Linked DNA regions of Homo sapiens. The protein of the gene in region 2 purifies or fractionates together with the protein of the main gene of each other region. This does not show direct contact. Each region holds a gene or a part of one and is shown on either strand. Other genes may lie near its edges.

The links.
Region 1: the proteins of C4BPA (region 2) and TUB purify together in Homo sapiens (affinity purification with mass spectrometry; one large-scale study listed by BioGRID and IntAct). This does not show direct contact.

What each region holds. Positions count from the first base shown.
Region 1 is NC_000011.10:8,098,066-8,101,720, forward strand, and holds part of TUB (tubby protein homolog), read left to right. Parts: exon of another isoform or gene 1-692; coding exon 693-810; exon of another isoform or gene 811-1,274; intron 1,275-2,437; coding exon 2,438-2,536; intron 2,537-2,760; coding exon 2,761-2,932; intron 2,933-3,420; coding exon 3,421-3,554; 3' UTR 3,555-3,655. UniProt on the Homo sapiens protein: Functions in signal transduction from heterotrimeric G protein-coupled receptors. Binds to membranes containing phosphatidylinositol 4,5-bisphosphate. Can bind DNA (in vitro). May contribute to the regulation of transcription in the nucleus.
Region 2 is NC_000001.11:207,121,206-207,124,860, reverse strand, and holds part of C4BPA (C4b-binding protein alpha chain precursor), read right to left. Parts: intron 940-3,655; coding exon 854-939; intron 687-853; coding exon 495-686; intron 1-494. UniProt on the Homo sapiens protein: Controls the classical pathway of complement activation. It binds as a cofactor to C3b/C4b inactivator (C3bINA), which then hydrolyzes the complement fragment C4b.

The sequences.
Region 1 (3,655 bases), on a different chromosome or scaffold from region 2:
CCAAGAGTGATGGATCCAACCCCAGGGTGTCACTGATAACGCAGGCCACCATGGAAGAGTTGCCTTGGCTCCATGGTCAATGCCAAGGGACAGGGCTGAGAGTGAGCTCTTGAGGGAAGAGACACACAGCAATCTTGGGGGTGGGGGGCAGTGGTGAAGGGGCAGGAAGGCTCTGAGCCTAGGCCTCCAGGTGGGGGCAGTGGGGAGGTAGGGTTTGCTGAGGAACTGAGTACCAGATTTGGGGAGCATAAATAAAGATGAGAGGTCAGGAGCTAAAGCTGGAGATGGGGCTGGACTGAGACTTAGGCTGGCTGCGACAGAGGAGATCTCATCCTCTCTCCACGGGTGCTAAGCCTCTTCCACTGTCTTATCAGATGCCATTCTGTTTGCTCACCTCCCATGAGGAGAACTCCCATGTTCCCCCAGATAAATCTTCTGAAGAATCCTGATTGACCTCCCTGAATTGCTCTCACTGAACTGAAATGCACTTTGAGTCAACTCAGAGCAAGTCCAGGCCTTCTGCCCACGAAGTGTCTTCAAAGATGTGGATTCAGTGAGCAGTATGCCTCCCTGGGCCTGCTCCTGTTCCAGCCCAGAATGTTTTGCAGGCTCCTCATAGGACAGACGATGAGCTGTTCCCTGCTCTGGGGCAGAGGGTGCATGACTCTATACTGATTGTGCCTTTATTTCAGGTCCAACTTGATGGGCACCAAGTTCACTGTTTATGACAATGGAGTCAACCCTCAGAAGGCCTCATCCTCCACTTTGGAAAGTGGAACCTTACGTCAGGAGCTGGCAGCTGTGTGCTACGTGAGTCCTAGGTTCGGGGGTCTCTGATTTCCAAGGTAGATATGAAATCCAGGACTTGATGCCTGATCTAGGGGCTATCCCATCCATCTTAGTGGGTAGACAAGGCTGTGTGGAGAGGGGCTGTCCTCTGTGGAGTGTTCCTGGCCTAGGACAGGGGCTCTGGCTCTCTCCTCCTGACTTCAGAGCTCACACCACAGCCGGCCATCTGCTTGGGGAGCTCAGAAAACCAGGCCTGGCTCTCTGCAGTCCAGGCCAGGAGTCTCTTAGACAGAAGGAGACGGTCGCCCTGGGTTCTTGTCTGTGCATTTCCCAGATCATCCCTCTGGCATGCCAGGTTCTACATGGATTACACGGCACTTTGTCATCTCACTGAACGTTCAACCTAAGAGGTAGATCCTATTTTCTTTATAGATGAGGAAACTGAAGCTCAGCTGCAGATGTCACACAGCTCAAAAACGACCAAACTGGAATATAAATATAGGGGATTACTCTACCCCTTTGAACCTTTTTCTTCATTTTTAAAATCAGGGGTGGGTATCTCATCAACCTGGGCATGGGCACTTCTTGGAGGCCATCAGTAAGTAATCCACAGCTACTTTGTATGATCCTGTGGTGCCACCTGCTGACCAGTTTTGGGGAGGCAGCCTGAGTCTTCAAGTTCTTACTGAGCTCCAACTAAGCATATTGTTTGAGGCACTAAGGATATAGTAATGAACAGACATAAATGTATACCTTTATGGGACTTAAAGCCCTAGCAGGGCAGACAAGCTATGAAACAGATCTATCAGTGAAGTAAGTATGTTCTTTATAAACACTAAGAAGAAAAAGTAGGGGAGGGGAGATAAGAAATGTCAAGGTATGTGTGAGAATTTCAGAATGGCAGGGAGGGCGTCACTGAGGTAGCTCTTGAGTAAAGACCAGAAGGAAGTGAAAAACAGCAGTGTACGTGTCTAGGGGACACAGTGAGGACAAAAGTCCTGAATGCCTGGCATGAAGAAGGAATGGAGTGGATACCAGGCAGTAAATGGTGAGGAGAGGAAGGTCATGGGGCCACGTGCAGGTGAAGTCACATCTCCAGCTTTAACTTGGAGTGAGCTGGAGAGCCACTGGAGAGTTCTGAGCAGAGGAGAAAGATCATCTGACTTAATGTGCCTGAGCACTGGCTGCTGTGTTGAGAACAGATGGTGGGAAGGAGGAATAGGAGGGCCAACAACAGAAACCAGGAGTCCAGGCAAAGGCTGTTAGAATGATCTTGGTGAGAGAAGCTAGTGGTGAAAAGTGGTGGAAGTCTGGGTATAATTGGAAGGTGGAGCTGACAGAAACTGCTGATGGATTAGACGTAGGATGTAGAAGAGAGGACTCGAGTGTGACCAAGTAGTTTGCCGGAGCGAGTGGAAGAACAGCATTGCCGTGAGCAGAAGCAAGGATGACGCATAAGAGGAGCTAGTTCTGGCAGGGTAGAGACCCAGGGGCTCAGTTCTGGCCGTGTTAGGTTTAGAGGGATGTGTGTTAGACTTCGGAGTGGAGATGGTGGGAACTAGCTCTTCCTCTTTATTCCCGTCCCCCCCACCTTCTCCAGTAGGTAAATAGACGCCTCAGGTGGCCAGTGTTGCGTTCTCTTTCCCAGGAGACAAACGTCTTAGGCTTCAAGGGGCCTCGGAAGATGAGCGTGATTGTCCCAGGCATGAACATGGTTCATGAGAGAGTCTCTATCCGCCCCCGCAACGTGAGTGTCTACCCCTTCCTCCCCTCTTTCCCCATCATCCTAGTCTCTGCATGAGCTTCTAAGGGCAGAACTCCAGCTGATGTGTGTATGTGGAGGGGTACCATGTGAGAAAGCCCTGGAGGTCTAGGGAAATCCAAGGACCCCCATTCCCGGGATAGATCCCTTTCTGGGGTGGTCATGGTGCCAAAGGCCTGGGCCTGGCTCAGGTGAGGCTGCCCTCCCAGGAGCATGAGACACTGCTAGCACGCTGGCAGAATAAGAACACGGAGAGTATCATCGAGCTGCAAAACAAGACACCTGTCTGGAATGATGACACACAGTCCTATGTACTCAACTTCCATGGGCGCGTCACACAGGCCTCCGTGAAGAACTTCCAGATCATCCATGGCAATGACCGTGAGTGTTTCTGTCCCTACTCATTATGGTCCGTAGGATACCCAAGGCCCTTAGCGTAGGGTTCAGCCCACCTAGCCCTGCCTACACTGGCTAGAGTTTAAGAATGTGAGCTATACAGCTAAGGTTAGATGTATGGAACTTTCTAACCCTAATGACTGGGAGGTCCTGGAAGAACCTTCTTTGCAGCCCTGGTCCTAGATTCTGTGTATTCAACGGAGTCTCAGGCACGGGAACACCCTTTAAAAGGACTTTTCCTCTTTTCTGTCCCCTGGTGTTCACATGCATCTTACTTTGTCCTTTGCCATCTGCCACCTCTTTCCTGCCACTTCTCCCAATTGGCCTTTGTTTTACTTCCCTTTGTGATTCCCCTGGCATCTCTGCTTCTCACTTGTTCTTCCCTCATGTGGTTTGGGTGTCTGTCTATCCTTCCCTGGCTCTACCATTCCTGTCCTGTCCTTTTCTCTGTCTGTGCCTGTGCTTGGCCCCAGCGGACTACATCGTGATGCAGTTTGGCCGGGTAGCAGAGGATGTGTTCACCATGGATTACAACTACCCGCTGTGTGCACTGCAGGCCTTTGCCATTGCCCTGTCCAGCTTCGACAGCAAGCTGGCGTGCGAGTAGAGGCCTCTTCGTGCCCTTTGGGGTTGCCCAGCCTGGAGCGGAGCTTGCCTGCCTGCCTGTGGAGACAGCCCTGCCTATCCTCTGTATATAGGCCTTCCGCC
Region 2 (3,655 bases):
TGTAATGGAAAGTGATATGTGGTTGCTTCCAGGCCAAAGCTCTTAGCCAGGACACAATTGGCCTTTCTCTCTTCGTCTACTGAAGAGACTGTGAAGGCACATTTTGAAATGGAGGTGCCATAAGATCAAAGCAACCTGGCTTGCTGAGCTAGTTGCTAAGCTAACACAGACTACGGCTGCCCTGGAGAGTCTCCTGGACATGGAACAAACTCAGTGTAAATGAGAATAAACTTTTACTTCACCAAACCAGTGAGATGTTGTTGCTGTTTGTTCCCATATACTGTTAGCTCCCAGTTCACCACTCCCATTTTTATGGCTTTTATATTCTAAACAAACATGCAATAAGTATCAGGTGGCCAAATAAATGATTGCATCAGAGCGATAGTTAGTTTATCTTTGAATTTTCCATTTGCCCCCCAATAAATTTACCTTTCTTTCTCTTTTAAACAAAAGAGAGCAAACATTTTGATGCAGAATTCATCATTATGACTTACTTTCACAGGTAGGAGGGCTTGGTCTCCAAACACCTATTGTTTCATTCTCCACAGTGCAAGAAATGGAGGCATGGCCCAAGAGTGAGAAGCGGGGGTCACAGCTGTAGGTGACAGAAAAGCCGTATGCGTAGAAATTTTCTTCACCGCTGTGCCTTCCATTCCTGATGTCTGGAGGAGGCTTACACTTGACAACTGAGGTAAGTGAGTGAAGAGAAAGAAATACTCAGCGAAGGCATCATGATAAATCTAAAATTCATGCAAATTCTAATGGAAGGTACACATACCTGTAAAGATGCACAGGGACTTTATTACCTAACAGAGTTTAAATTGATAGTCAAGTCAGAAGAGTCTTTACTTACTTTCACATTGTGGGAGAGGATGACTCCAGCCAACTCCTCTATCTTGGACTTCACAACGACTAGTGGTTGAGCCAATTAAGAAAAATCTGAATAAGATAGATCAAAGATTTTAATGGAATTCCTCCTACCCTAAATTAAATTAAAGAGGTCTGAGCAAATAGAATTGTTACTCAATATTAAAATAAGGAAATCATATGTTCTTGGATATCATTTCCCATTAAGCACTCCATTCAGTAAAATTTCATTACTGCAATGAGATGCGTGTGTTTTTTCCTTTGGACCCTCATTCCTTAATCTGTTACTGAGCATCTACTAGGGATCAGGAATGCAGTTCATCCAGAGCTCAAGCACAACAATAAAAGGCTGGCTTCAGCGTGTTCTGTGGTTGTCTCTGGGTGAGAGTACCAGCTAGATTACTGAGTCCACAATCTCCCCATCTTTGGCTTGAAGCTTCCTCTGACTTCCAGGTGGGTGTCTTATTCCCATACATCATTAGCTTTCAGTTCACCACTTCCATTTTTACGGCTCTTGATATGTCCTACTCTTTCCTCAGTTCGTCTTCCTGCCCTCTATCTTATGCTAACAGAAAAAAACAAAAGATATGAATGATTACAAATTGTAGCATCATCAAGGATATTGATAATCATCAATGATATCAAATTGTAGCATCATCAAGGAATAAACTTACAATGTGATAGAACACTAAAGCAAATGTCACCTTCAGCAATCTAAGAGCCTGTGGAATTTATTGAATAATAACTTCAAGAAAATATATCTCAACTACAACTACAATTAAGTATTTCTTTACTTTAAAATTTCTTTAAAATGTAGTTTTTCCAACCTAGCCCAGAGACTAAGTGCAAAATATTGTTTCTGGTTGTTTCAATGGGAACACCTTAGTGTTTCAACAGCATCTTAGTTCTGATTCTTTTCACTTTCCCTTATGGAAGCCATACACAATAAGGAAAACAGAGGATAAAAATGAGAAAATCAACAAAAATGAAACAAACGGAAAAGATAAGAGAAAACTAATAGATATAGGTAACAAGCAAAAGAGAATCAACATAGGCTTAATTGGATAACCTAAAGAAGGAATCCAAGTAGAACAAAATAGCTTTTTAAAAATTTGTTTCAGGCCAGGTGTGGTGGCTTACTCCTGTAATACCAGTACTTTGGGACGCTGAGGCAGGTGAATTCTTTGAGACCAGGAGTTCAAGACCAGCCTGGCCAATATGACAAAACCCCATCTCTATTAAAAATACAAAAATCAGCTGGGCATGGTGCTGCTCTCCTGTAGTCCCAGCTACTTGAGAGGCTGAGGTGGGAGGATTGCTTGAGCCCAGGAAGTTGAGGCTGCAGTGAGCTATGATCGTGCCACTGCACTCCAGCCTGGGCAAAGGGAGTGAGACCTTGACTCAAAAAATATATATATTTCAAGTAAATGTTACTAAAATAAAACAATACGTCAATCTACATATTAAAATTGCACATCACATAGTAGCAAAAAATTAAACCAAGTGATTTCTACCAAAACAACTAAGAGTAAAAGTATTAGGTTTCAAAGATAAAGAATAATAATTTAGATAGTCAAACAAAGATCAAGCCATATGAGAAGAAATTTCAGATCAGTAGTATTCACTAGCAAAAGATAGTGCAGCAGTACCTATAAGACATCCAAGAAAAGAAAGGATGAGCCAAGGACTATATCAAGCCCCATTATCTTCTAGGTATCAATGCCTCAGATATATTATCTGAACCTGCAAGAACTCAAAGAATAATTTTCACTTGGGACTTTTTTTTGGAAACCACCATAGGACAAACTACAGCCAACCAAGAGATGACAATGGCAACTTTAGCCAAAATAAACAAAAATGGTAGCAAACATTGTACATGCAGATCTAAGAAAAAACAAATGTGATTTTAAGTGTGACTGAAGGAAATATAAATGTTATATGCTCAGACAGCACTGAAATAGTATAACTAAGAAAAAATAGAGACAGGGAAGAGAGGGTAAAATAAATTCCCTTATTGCCTGATCATTTGCAAAGTTGAGAATGAAAGCAACCATAGACACATATGAATATTTCACATTAATGTTAAATACAAAATAAACACTAAGATAATACAAATGATACAAATTTACTGGTAGGGAAGATAGAAGGGGTGAAGGAGGGGTAAGAATACAAGATAAGTTTATTGTTGTTTATAACAAGGAACCAATTTAAACTGTCTAAAGATAAAGAGGAATAATGATATTATATAAATTTAAATGTATATAGGTCACCACTAGAAACAAATTTTGAACCTTCCTAAATACCACCATATATTTTTAATAGAAAATAAATATACACATACATATATAACAAAATATGAAATAATATGATAAAACCAAGTCTATAAGTATCACTCACATCAATAAATGTAAACTCCTAATGAAAGAAAAACAGCTTTTAATTGGAGAAAATTCAGCTCTGTTATATACAGGAGACAAACCTAAAAGTGTTTCAGACAGATTAAAAATAAAAGACAGCATAAAATTATACCAAGCAAATTCAAAAGAAAACCAAAGATAATAATTTTAATATCCCATAAGTTGGACATCAGAACCAAGATTATTAAATGACACACAATGGGTACTTTATATGTTAAAGATTTTGATTTTCAGTGAAGAGCTATGAATCTTTATGTAGCAAAATATGTATGTAGCAGCAATTTTAATAAAACAGAAGTATATGAGACAAGAAAAATAATCAAAATATGCTAATTATCATTAAATTATTTTATAATGGTTAAAATAATTAT